Linked DNA regions of Homo sapiens. The protein of the gene in region 2 interacts with the protein of the main gene of each other region in a pairwise test. Each region holds a gene or a part of one and is shown on either strand. Other genes may lie near its edges.

Region 1 (3,647 bases), on a different chromosome or scaffold from region 2:
ATTCTTTCTTTTCCTATAGGAAGAGGAAGACAGAGCTCTTACGAGGGGGAGGCAGAGACGGCACAGCAAGGGACATGCCCCCAGAATGCCACCAATGTCCCAGGACAGGCCCACCCATGGGACCAGGTTATCAGGGACCCTGTGGGGATGGGGTGGAATCTGGGGGGGTGAGCCTTCTTCCCCAGGCTGGGAGTGGGTGAGACGAGACTGAGGCCTCTACATTTGAATGCCCCCCAAACCCAGCAGTCATGTTGTGAGCAAACAAAGAAATCACGTTACTTCTTCCAACTGATCCGTAATTTCTTGGTTCTGTTGTTTCTGTGGGGAAGAGTCAAAGGAAGGTGACTGAGGGTGGCCCCCTCAACTCTATTCCCCAGACCAGGAACGGGTAGGCAGGGGCCAGGAATGGATTTTAAAGGCAAAGTTCTCAGACCCAATGGGAACACGAACTGGTAAACTCTCCTCAGGCTCTCAAGGAAAGGGGATTTGTGTCTTTGTTGGTTTTTGCCCACAGCCACAGAACTGAAAGTCTGAATCTCGATTCTCTTGAAAGGACAGTAACATAAACCTCTAGAGATGGAGTGTGAGAAAAGCCCACCCTCTGCCAGTTTGTGATTTAGAAAGGTGTAATCATTCAACAAACATTTGCTGAGCACACACAGGCCAGGTACGGTTCTTAATAGCAGGGATACCAGACAGAAAAAGACAGACAGGAGCCCTTGGCCCTGAGGTTTACATTCTAATGGGCCTTTAAATCTTGGACTCTCAGAGCTAAGAGACCTTTGATACTCTCTAACTCTACCTCCTCAGGAAATGCAAGCCCAAGGAGGAGAGGTGGCTTGTCCCAAATCAAAGAGCAAATTAAGGACTGAGTCAGGGCAGAAATACAGGGCTCCTGACAACCAGTCAGGCTAGCGCTTCCCCAAGAGGCAACAACCCCAGGGCGTGTGTGGCAAGGACTCGAGCAGGGGTGTCTAGAGAAGAGAGAGTAGGCAAAGAGGGCAGCAACAGAAGAGCCATGCTGCATGCTCCGTGCTCTGGGGTCCCTCCAGCTGAGGCCTGGGCCCCCCAGCTCCCCATTCGCCCTTGGCACCAGGGGCCCCCTGCCCCTTTCTTCAGGGTCCCAAGGGGAAACTGGAGCCCAGGATTAGCAGCATGGAATCAGGGGACCCCACTGGACTCTTACCAATTTCTCTATCGTGATATTGAGTTGTTTGTTTGTTACATAGCTGGAGTCCAGGGCTACCGCTAGCTGTTGGTACCGGCTCTGAGGCGCATGCAGAGAGGAGGAGTTGGAGGAGGATTGGGGGGAGAGGTAGAGAGAGCAATCATTAGGGTTGGGGGGTGTGTGGGCTGTCTCAGCTGGCAGAGGGGCACCCAGCCCCCGCTGTGGGAGGAGGTTGGAGGGCTGGCCTGCAGGGTCACTGGGCCACGGCCCAGGGCCTCTTACCTCCAGATCCTTCAGGTTAGCAGACGATGCAGGGCCCTCCCCATTGACACATGTCGCAGACTATAAGAGACGAGAGTGCACATGGAGATGTTCTGTCCCCTCAGTGTCTAAGCCCTCTAACTTCGTTTCTTCCCCAGCAATTGGCAACATTTTCTTTTCTAACTTGGACCCTCTGTCCCGTAACCCCTTTGTGCCAACTTCTCTCATGGTTCTTATTTCCCCACCATCCTTTCCTCCCGAGCAGCTCTCATCCAGTGCTTCTGCAGCAGGATACAATGATGCAACCAGTCATGGGGTCCAACTCCTTCATGTGCACAACTTCAAGGGAGAAGGCTCAGGGAAAAGGCGACTTCCTTAACATTGCCCAGCACATTGGCTGGTCCCAGGATCTTCCCTCTCTCTTGTGAATCCCTGCTTCAGTTTCTATCATAGTTCCCTTCCCCCCACCCCGCTCTCGGCCTCAGTTCCTGAGGTACCTCACAAACAAGACCATTGAGCTGTTGGGAGAGTTGTCGCAGGCTCTCGGTTGATGAGAAAGTCCTAGGGATGGAGACACAGGGGTCAGGGGTGCAGGTGGCTCAATGGGAAAGAAGGTCATGGGCAGTGGCCTCCCTGACTCTCTCAGCCTAGAGACTGCTGCCCCAACAGGAGACACTCACTTGGTTTCATCCATGAGATTAGGGACATTGTCAGCATCATGATTCTGTTTGGGAAGAAACGTGTGAGATGGTCATTCAATTTCTGGTAAGAATCACCCAGGATGGGGTGAGTCAAGCTCCCAAACTCATTCTAACAATCTTCAATCTCCCCAGGCCTCAAGGAAAAAAGCCCAGTCTGAGCCTTCCCCCGGCCCGGTCCCCAGGAAGGGCCCTTGACCCTAGGGAACAAGCTGCCTGTGAAAGGAGAAGATAATGCATAATAGGTACAGGAGGGCAGTGGGCAGAGGGGGAGGAGGCACGAACCTGAGATGCCGCCATGCTAGTGAGACTGGCACCAGGGGAAGGGACACCGCCAGGTAACACGGTGTCATCAGATGGTTGTAGAGTAGCAGCATTGTCCTTGGGTGTCTGTCACAGAACAGAGCAGGGGGTTAGGGGGCCATGCGGGAGAGGTGCCTCAGTACTATGAACACAAGGGTGTGGAACAGGTAGGACAGGTGTTGCTGCAGTCAGAGTGACAGTCACACATGCTAGGAGCCACTCAGGGGTGTGGATTGGTTGCCCAGGCCTTGGGCTGCTAGGCAGCATTTCAGATGGCCAAAGCTCAAAGCAGGGGCTGCACGGCCTCCTTCATGAACACGAGGACCTCGCTCTCCCTGGAGCTCAGCAAAAGACAGCAGCAGGCTCTGACCTGTGGCAGCCACAGCAGGCAGGAGGAAGGTGTGCCAAAGTCAGGGAGGAGAAAGGCACTGTTCTTCCAGAAGGCCAGTCTGTGCTGCAGAGTGACCCTCACTGGGCCCCTACTGGGCAGAGGATGGTGATGAGGAAGTAGTTGTCTGGGCAATGCACAATGTAGCTATCTGCCTGTCTCCTCCTTTCCTCCCTTCCCTTCTCCCCTGCAGTGGCACAATCATAGTTCACTGCAGCTTCCACCTCCTGGGCTCAAGCAATGCTCCCACCTCAGCCTCCCTAGTAGCTGAGATTATAGGTGCACACTACCATGCTCAGCTAATTTCTATAGAAACATGGTCTTGCCATCTTGCCCAGGCTGGTCTCAAAGTCCTGGGCTCAAGTGATCCACCTTGGTCTCCCAAAATGTTGAGATTACAGGTGTGAGCCATTGCACTTGGCCTACTGGCTGTGTTTCTGATTCAGGCCTTTTCAGGGGGAAAAAAAAAAAGCTGCCCAACTAGAAGACTCTCTCCAACTCTCTGGAGGTAAAAAGAGGATAAACCATGGCCAACACCCCCACCCCGACCTCTTACCTCCAAAAACATCTACCCAGCCAAGAAACCACCCAAGAAAACAGAGGTAAGACATCTTCCCTGTGGCTCTTGGCAACTTGGAAGTTGTAGGGCCTCTTTCCTGGGAATAGTACCTGAGGACAATCCTAGGATTCAGAACTTGGGGTCATGTGGAGCCTCTCCCTTGCCCCCAACTGGACCTACCTGCTTGATCAGAGCCCCACCCAGCCTCTCTCCAGGCTCTGACCTTACTCTTCGCCCAAGCCTCTGGTTCTAGAGATCTTCTAATATCTG
Region 2 (3,647 bases):
CCACAGGCACCTGCCATGAGGAGAGAAAAGGTGTGGATGCCCTTGAACCTTCTGTCTCTTGCAAAGAGACACCAATGTCACACAAAACAAGAGGGTGAAGAGTGATGCTTCTGTGCCCTGCACCCCAACAAGGCCACTTTTTTTGTTTGTTCGTTTTGAGACAGTCTCGCTCTGTTGCCCGGGCTGGAGTGCAGTGGCGCGATCTCCACTCACTGGGACCTCTGCCTCCTGGGTTCAAGCGATTCTCCTGCCTCAGCCTCCCGAGTAGCTGGGATTACAGGCACCTGCCACCACGCCCGGCTAATTTTTGTATTTTTAGTACAGACAGGGTTTCTCCATGTTGGCCAGGCTGGTCTCGAACTCCTGACCTCAAATGATCTGCCCACCTCGGTCTCCCAAAGTTCTGGGATCACAGGCCTGAGCCGCCCTGCCTGGCACAAGACCACTTTTGTTTTGTATGTTCCCCTTGGTGGCATTACATCAATAAGCCATAGTTTATTTCCCCTGAAGACATGTATTTGACTGATGCTGAGTTGCACAGCCTGGGTAGACATTCCCTTGCCTCCTGGGCTGAGTCTGTGTGGCCCTCACAAAGGCTCCAGTCCAGCCTGAGGCATGAGGGAGGGGCCCCAGCAGCCATCTTAGAGAGTTTAGTCTTTGTCGAGTCCAGTGGAGCCAATAAAGGCTTGTGATACACGTAGGGGTCCATCTGGTACCTACTATTTTTTTCCCTTTTCAATTTTTTAATTTTTTTTTTTTGAGACGGAGTCTTGCCCTGTCACCCAGGCTGGAGTGCAGTGGTGTGATCTTGGCTCACTGCAACATCTGCCTCCCAGGTTCAAGCGATTCTCCTGCCTCAGCCTCCCAAGTAGCTGGGACTACAGGTGTCTGCCACTACACCTGGCTAATTTTTTTTTTTGTTTTTTTAGTAGAGATGGGGTTTCACTATGTTGGCCAGGCTGGTCTCAAACTCCTGATCTCGAACTCCTGATCTTGTGATCCGCCTGCCTCAGCCTTCCAAAGTGCTAGGATTACAGGTGTGAGCCACTGTTGCTTAAACCCAGGAGTTCGAGGCTGCAGTGCGCTGTGATGGCACCGCTGTACTCCAGCCTGGGTGGCAGAGCGAGACCCTGTCTCCAGAAAAAAAAAAAAAGATTTCAGAGAGCAGCCTGGCACCTGAGCGGTGGGGGGGGGGCTGCAGAATTTGTGGGGCCCCAGCGAAGCCACCGAGTAACGCGGAGCTGGGTCAGCCCTGACCGCTTACAGCCCGGCCGTGCTGGCACTCCATGATGTGCTGAAGCAGCAGCTGAGCCTGACGCAGCAGTTCATCCAGGCCAGCCGGCACCTGCACGCCTCCCTCCTGCGCTCCCTGGACGCGGACTCCTTCCACTACCACACCCTGGAGGAAGCCAAAGAGGTGAGCGCAGCTCCCCATGGGCAGGGGCAGGGCAGTAGGGGAGCGGCAGCTCCCAGAGGCCGGGCCGAAGGGATATGGGCCGGGGCCTGGGCTCCAGCGCTCAGCCCAGGGCTGCAGGGATGCAGTGGGGCCATCACCTGTCCCTGTGGAGGGAGCCTCATTTCCTGCCACCCTGTGGCAAAAGCTGGTACAGGGTGGGGTGCTGAGCTCCTGCACCTTGCAGCCAGCCCCGCCTGGGCTGTGTGACCTCAGACTAAAGGGACCTACTGTTCGTGGCACTGTTTTCTCCCATGGGAGGGGTCCTGTCCCTTTCCCTGAGCCTCCTGAGACATCCCCGAGATGGGGCCAGAGGCGGCCCAGCTGTTCTCCTCAGCAATCACCCTCACCTCTTTTTTTACCCTCTAAGAATTTTTATCTGATTACCAGCCAGGTGCCGTGGCTCACACCTGGTGCTTTGGGAGGCTGTGATGGGTGGATCACTTGAGGTCAGGCGTTTGAGACCAGCCCGGCCAACGTGGTGAAGCCCCATCTCTACTAAAAATACAAAAATTAGCCAGGATGGTGACGGGCGCCTGTAGTCCCAGCTACTCAGGAGGCTGAGGCAGGAGAGTCGCTTGAACCTGGGAGGTGGAGGTTGTAGTGAGCTGAGATCGTGCCACTGCACTCCAGCTCGGGTGACGAGCAAGACTCCGTCTCAAAAAAACTTTTTAAAATCTGATTACCAAAAATTACGTGGCTGTTTTCTGAAAATCTTGTTGCAGAGATGTGTAACCTGCAAGTTCTCCTTAATTTCAGAGGTAACTATTACCAAGCTGATATATATACTCCTTCAGACTCTTGTATGAACCATAGTATGCGTATTTCTTTTTTTTAAAATTTTTTTTTGACGGAGTTTTGCTCTTGTTGCCCAGGCTGGAATGCAGTGGTGTGATCTCAGCTCACTGCAGCCTTCGCTTCCTGGGATCAAGCGATTCTTCTACCTCAGCCTCTCAAGTAGCTGGGATTACAGGTGCCTGCCACCATGCCCAGCTAATTTTTGGGATTACAGGTGCGAGCCACCATGCCTGGCCACGTATTTCTTTATAGAAATGGCATTATACTATATGCAGTCCTTTATGGTGATCTATTCATAAACTTTTTTTTTTCTTTTGAGACTGAGTTTCACTCTTGTTGCCCAGGCTGGGGTGCAATGGTGCAATCTCAGCTCACTGCAACCTCCGCCTCCTGGGTTCAAGTGATTCTCTTACCTCACCTTCCTGAGTAGCTGTGATTACAGGTGCGAACCACCATGCCCAGCTAATTTTTCATATCTTTAGTAGAGACAGGGTTTCTCCATGTTGGTCAGGCTGGTCTTGAACTCCCGACCACAGGTGATCCACCTGCCTCGGCCTCCCAAAGTGCTGGGATTATAGGCGTGAGCCACCGCCCCCTGCTTTAAACATTTTACATAACAAATTTTTCAGTGTTTATTTCTAAAAAGTGATGTTAAAGCCAGGTGTGGTGGTTCATTCCTGTAATCCCAGCACTTTGGGAAGCTGAGGCAGGGTGGGTCGCTTGAGCCCAGGAGTTCATGACCAGCCTGGGCAACATAGCAAGACTCCATCTCTATTAAAAAATACAAGAAAACTAGTTTAAGTTTAGCATAGTGGTGTGTGCCCGTAGTCCCAGCTCTCTGGGAGGCTGAGGTGGGAGGATCACTTGAGCTGGGGAGGTTGAGGCTGTAGTGAGGGAGAAAGCGGGACTCTGTCTCAAACAAACAACCATAATGCAATAATACACAAACCAAATTTACTAAGTATCAAGGAATATCCAGTGTTGAGATTTCTGCTTGTCTGATTTAAAGTTGTGTGTTTTGTTCCGATTTGGTAATTCGGATCCAAAGTCCATACTATCCGATATGTCCTTTGAGCCTCTTAATCTAGAGCAGCGACCGGTTCTCAATGCTGAGCGGTTGGGGATCCCCTGGAAGCCCTGTGAAAGCGATGCTGGGCCCGCAAGCAGGCGGGGTGGGCCTGGAGCTAGGCGTTTCTCCCACATGCCCCGGGACGCTGCTTTGGAACTGTGCCGAGTCCCCTGCATGCCAGGCCTCTCGTTTCCTTGTGGTTTATCTGCTGAAGAGGGCAGGTTGTGAGTCCCACGGGTCTCTACAATGTCAACTTTGCTCATTGCAGCCCTCTGGGGGCTTTGAACTCATGCCTCTGTTGGGCGTCCATCAGCCCATCCGATGCAG
Region 3 (3,647 bases), 6.1 Mb from region 2:
CCGCTGCCCCTGTCTGGAATTCCCTGCCTCCTCAACATCAGCAACCACTAACATCATATGACAATTATTTATCACGTTTTGGGTACTGCCCCCCTCCAATGAATGAAGCCCTGCTCTCTAAATATGGGAACGTGTTCGCCATTTTGTTCCCAGAACCAGGAACGTGGCCTGGTGCAAAGCACGGGCTCAGCAAATGCTTGTTTTTTTTTTTGTTTTTATTTTGTTCAGTTTTGTTTGAACAAGGTCTTGTTGTCATGCAGACTAGAGTGCAGTGGTGTGATAATGGCTCACTGCAGCCTTGATCTCCCAGGCTCAACCTGCCTCAACCCCAAGTAGCTGGGACTACAGGTGCACACAAACCACCAAGCCTGGCTTTTTTTTTTTTTTTTTTTTTTTGAGACGGAGTCGCCCAGGCTGGAGTGCAGTGGCGTGATCTTGGCTCACTGCAACCTCTGCCTCCCGTGTTCAAGCAATTTTCCTGCCTCAGCCTCCTTAGTAGCTGGGATTACAGGCACGCGCCACCACGCCTGGGTAATTTTGTATTTTTAATAGAGACGGGGTTTCTCCATGTTGGCTGGTCTTGAACTCCTGACCTCAAGTGATCCACCCACCTTGGCCTCCCAAAGTGCTGGGATTACAGGCATGAGCCACTGCACCAGGGCCCCTTCTAGATGTTTCTTTGTTCCACCCATAACCTTGCCCCAGGATCACTGCCAAGGCCCTCTTAGCTCTGTCTCCAGCCCAGCATGCCCTCCTGAGCCCCAGCTTGGTGTCTACCTGCTTCCCGCTCACCCCAGCCCCAGATGTCACTCCCCAGGCACTCCTCTTTCTCCTTATAACAGTGCCTCATCTCCTCAGGCTCCTGGTCCCCGCCTCACTCCCTGTCTCCCTCAGACCTCCATCTGGGCCCCATCGGATTGTACAGGCCTCTCCTGAGACCCCTGCGTGGCTCCACCATCACCTCTCCTGAACCTCAGTGGAGGCTGCTCTATCCAGAGCCACTAATCAAACCCTGAAACCCTGAAACGTGCCACCACCTTCAATTGCTGACCCTCTCCAATCCAGGCACAGCTGCCACCAGGGAGGCCTGTGAAGCCCATGCATTTGACCACGTGACCAGAGTCCTCCCCACTACATCTTGGGGGGTCTGAATTCAGATGGGACTTCTGATCCTGGCATCCTGGTCCTGGGTCCCAGGCAGATACTGGCCCTCATCGTTCCCCGAAAGTACGGGCTCTGTCTTGCCTCTTGGCCTCTGCATGTGCGGTTCCCTTACCTGCTTTTGCACCCAAAACTCAGCTTCAACAGAGCCTTCCCCAAATGCTCCCTGCCTGAGGCACCACTGATCCCTAAAGGACCTCCTGTGACCATCTGACGATGTGGTGAGGGTGCTGGAGGACAGCCTTGGGGCAACGGCCCCTGGGTCCTAGCCCACAGCCACCATGTACCGGCTGGGTATCCCGGGCCATCCCCTAACCTCCTGTAACCTCAGTTTCCTCATCTGTCAAACAGTCAACAATGCTGACTGCACAAGCTCATATTGGAAGAAACTAAGGAGATGATTAGAGTAAAATGTCCCGAGCCATGTGGGCCCTCAGCACGCACCCTTCCTGTACTGGCCAGGGTCATTACCATCTGTGCAAGAGAACAATCTCTCTCTCTCTCTGGGGACCACTCTGGGGCCTCAAAAAGGAAATGTCCTTCAAATGCTTAGTTTAATTTCTGGCCCAGAGTACACGCTCAATAACTGGGAGTGGTTGTTACTACATGGTCACAGCACCCGGCTGTGCCACTGACGGGAGATGGAACTTTGGCCATGTCACTGAAACCTTTCCCAGCCTTGGTCTTCCCCTCTGTGAAATGGAGTCTCACAGGATCGCCGTGAGAACTGAATGACTAACTCTATGGAAAATGCTTCCAAAACAGCCCTCAGTAGGTGTGTCCCACTGTTACCATCTCCGTCCTTGTCACTGCCACCTGAATGGTCTGCTGACTCATTCCTGTGCCTTATCTGAGGCTGTGTCCCCAGGTTCTAAGGCAGGGCCAGGCAGAGCTGGCCCCTACTCTAATACCCCAGGGGACTGACACAGCCAGCCTGAGCCTCGGATTCCCCTATATGTATAAGGGGTCAAGAAGGCCTACGTGGTCGAGCGTGGTGGCTCACTCCTGTAATCCCAACACTTTGGGAGGCCGAAGCGGGTGGATCACCTGAGGTCAGGAGTTTGAAACCAGCCTGGCCAACATGGTGAAACCCCGTCTCTCCTAAGAACACAAAAATTAGCCAGGCGTGGTGGCAGGCGCCTGCAATCCCAGCTACTCCAGAGGCTGAGGCAGAATCGCTTGAACCCGAGGCAGAAGTTGTAGTGAGCTGAGATCGCCCCACTGCACTCCAGCCTGGGCGACAGAGCATGACCCTGTCTGAAAAAAAAAAAAAAAAAAAAAAAAAGCTATACCTCATGAGATAAACAGCAGCTGCAGGCTGGGCACAGTGACCCATGCCTATAATCCTAGCACTTTGGGAGGCCGAGGTGGGAGGATCACTTGAGCTCAGGAATTTGAGACCAGCCTAGGCAACATAGTGAGATTCCATCTCTTAAAAAAAAAAAGTTGCTGGGTGTGGTGGCTCATGCCTGTAATCCCAACACTTTGGGAGGCCAGGCGGGCAGATCATGAGGTCAGGAGTTCGGGACCAGCCTGGCCAACATGGTGAAACCCCATCTCTACTTAAAAAATACAAAAATTAGCCGGGCATGGTGGCGCGCACCTGTAGTCCCAGCTACTCGGGAGGCTGAGGCAGGAGAATTGCTTGAACCTGGGAGGTGGAGGTTACAGTGAGCCGAGATGGCACCACTGCACTCCTGTCTGGGCAACAGAGTGAGACTCCGTCTTAAAAAAAAAAAAAAAAAAAAAAAAAGCAGCTGTGGCCTCTCCAACTCCCTTTCTCCACGATGGGCCTGTGTCACCCTGGAGCCTGCCCACCACCCTGCAATCCGCTGCTGGGCTGCCACCAGTCTCCCCTGTGTCCTCTGAACAACTGCCAGGGAGGCCGCAGCTAAAAAAGGCCTCTTGGAGTTGGCGGGGGCGGCAGCCTGCCCAGCCTGGGCTTTACACCTCCTATCGGGGAGGGGCTGTAGCAGGCTGGGCAGGGGAGAAGCCACCCCAGCAAGCAGGGCCCACAGATGTCACTACCCTCCTGCCTTACAGTTAGGGAAACTGAGGCTCACAGAATCTCAATGTCATACAACTCATTAGAAGAAACCACTAACAGCAGCTGTCTCTGGGCAGGAGAGCCGGCGAGCTGGGGCTGAGAAAAGGGATTCATTTGTCCGCTTCTGGAAACTTTGAAATTTTTTTTTTTAAGAGACAAGGTCTTAGGCCAGGCTTGGTGGCTCACACCTACAATCCCAGCACTTTGTGAGGCTGAGGCAGGTGGATTGCCTGAGCTCAGCAGTTTGAGACCAGCCTGGGCAACATGGTGAAACCCTGTCTCTACCAAAAAGTACAAAAATCAACCAGGCATGGTGGTGTGTACCTGTGGTCCCAGCTACTCAGGAGGCAGAAGTAGGAGGATCACTTGAGCCCGGAAGGTGGAAGTTGCAGTGAGCTGAGATGGCGCCACTGCCATCTCAGGGTGACAAAGCAAGGCC

What was found.
Region 1: the proteins of C19orf44 (region 2) and GOLGA2 interact in binary tests that used the Homo sapiens proteins (3 or more experiments, as listed by UniProt).
Region 3: the proteins of C19orf44 (region 2) and CDC37 interact in a two-hybrid assay, tested with the Homo sapiens proteins (one large-scale study listed by BioGRID and IntAct).

Annotation. Positions count from the first base shown.
Region 1 is NC_000009.12:128,266,008-128,269,654, forward strand, and holds part of GOLGA2 (golgin subfamily A member 2), read right to left. Parts: intron 2,518-3,647; coding exon 2,413-2,517; intron 2,154-2,412; coding exon 2,110-2,153; intron 1,991-2,109; coding exon 1,927-1,990; intron 1,511-1,926; coding exon 1,451-1,510; intron 1,268-1,450; coding exon 1,187-1,267; intron 319-1,186; coding exon 280-318; intron 14-279; coding exon 1-13. UniProt on the Homo sapiens protein: Peripheral membrane component of the cis-Golgi stack that acts as a membrane skeleton that maintains the structure of the Golgi apparatus, and as a vesicle thether that facilitates vesicle fusion to the Golgi membrane.
Region 2 is NC_000019.10:16,513,247-16,516,893, forward strand, and holds part of C19orf44 (uncharacterized protein C19orf44), read left to right. Parts: intron 1-1,250; coding exon 1,251-1,417; intron 1,418-3,647.
Region 3 is NC_000019.10:10,397,043-10,400,689, forward strand, and holds part of CDC37 (hsp90 co-chaperone Cdc37), read right to left. Parts: intron 1-3,647. UniProt on the Homo sapiens protein: Co-chaperone that binds to numerous kinases and promotes their interaction with the Hsp90 complex, resulting in stabilization and promotion of their activity. Inhibits HSP90AA1 ATPase activity.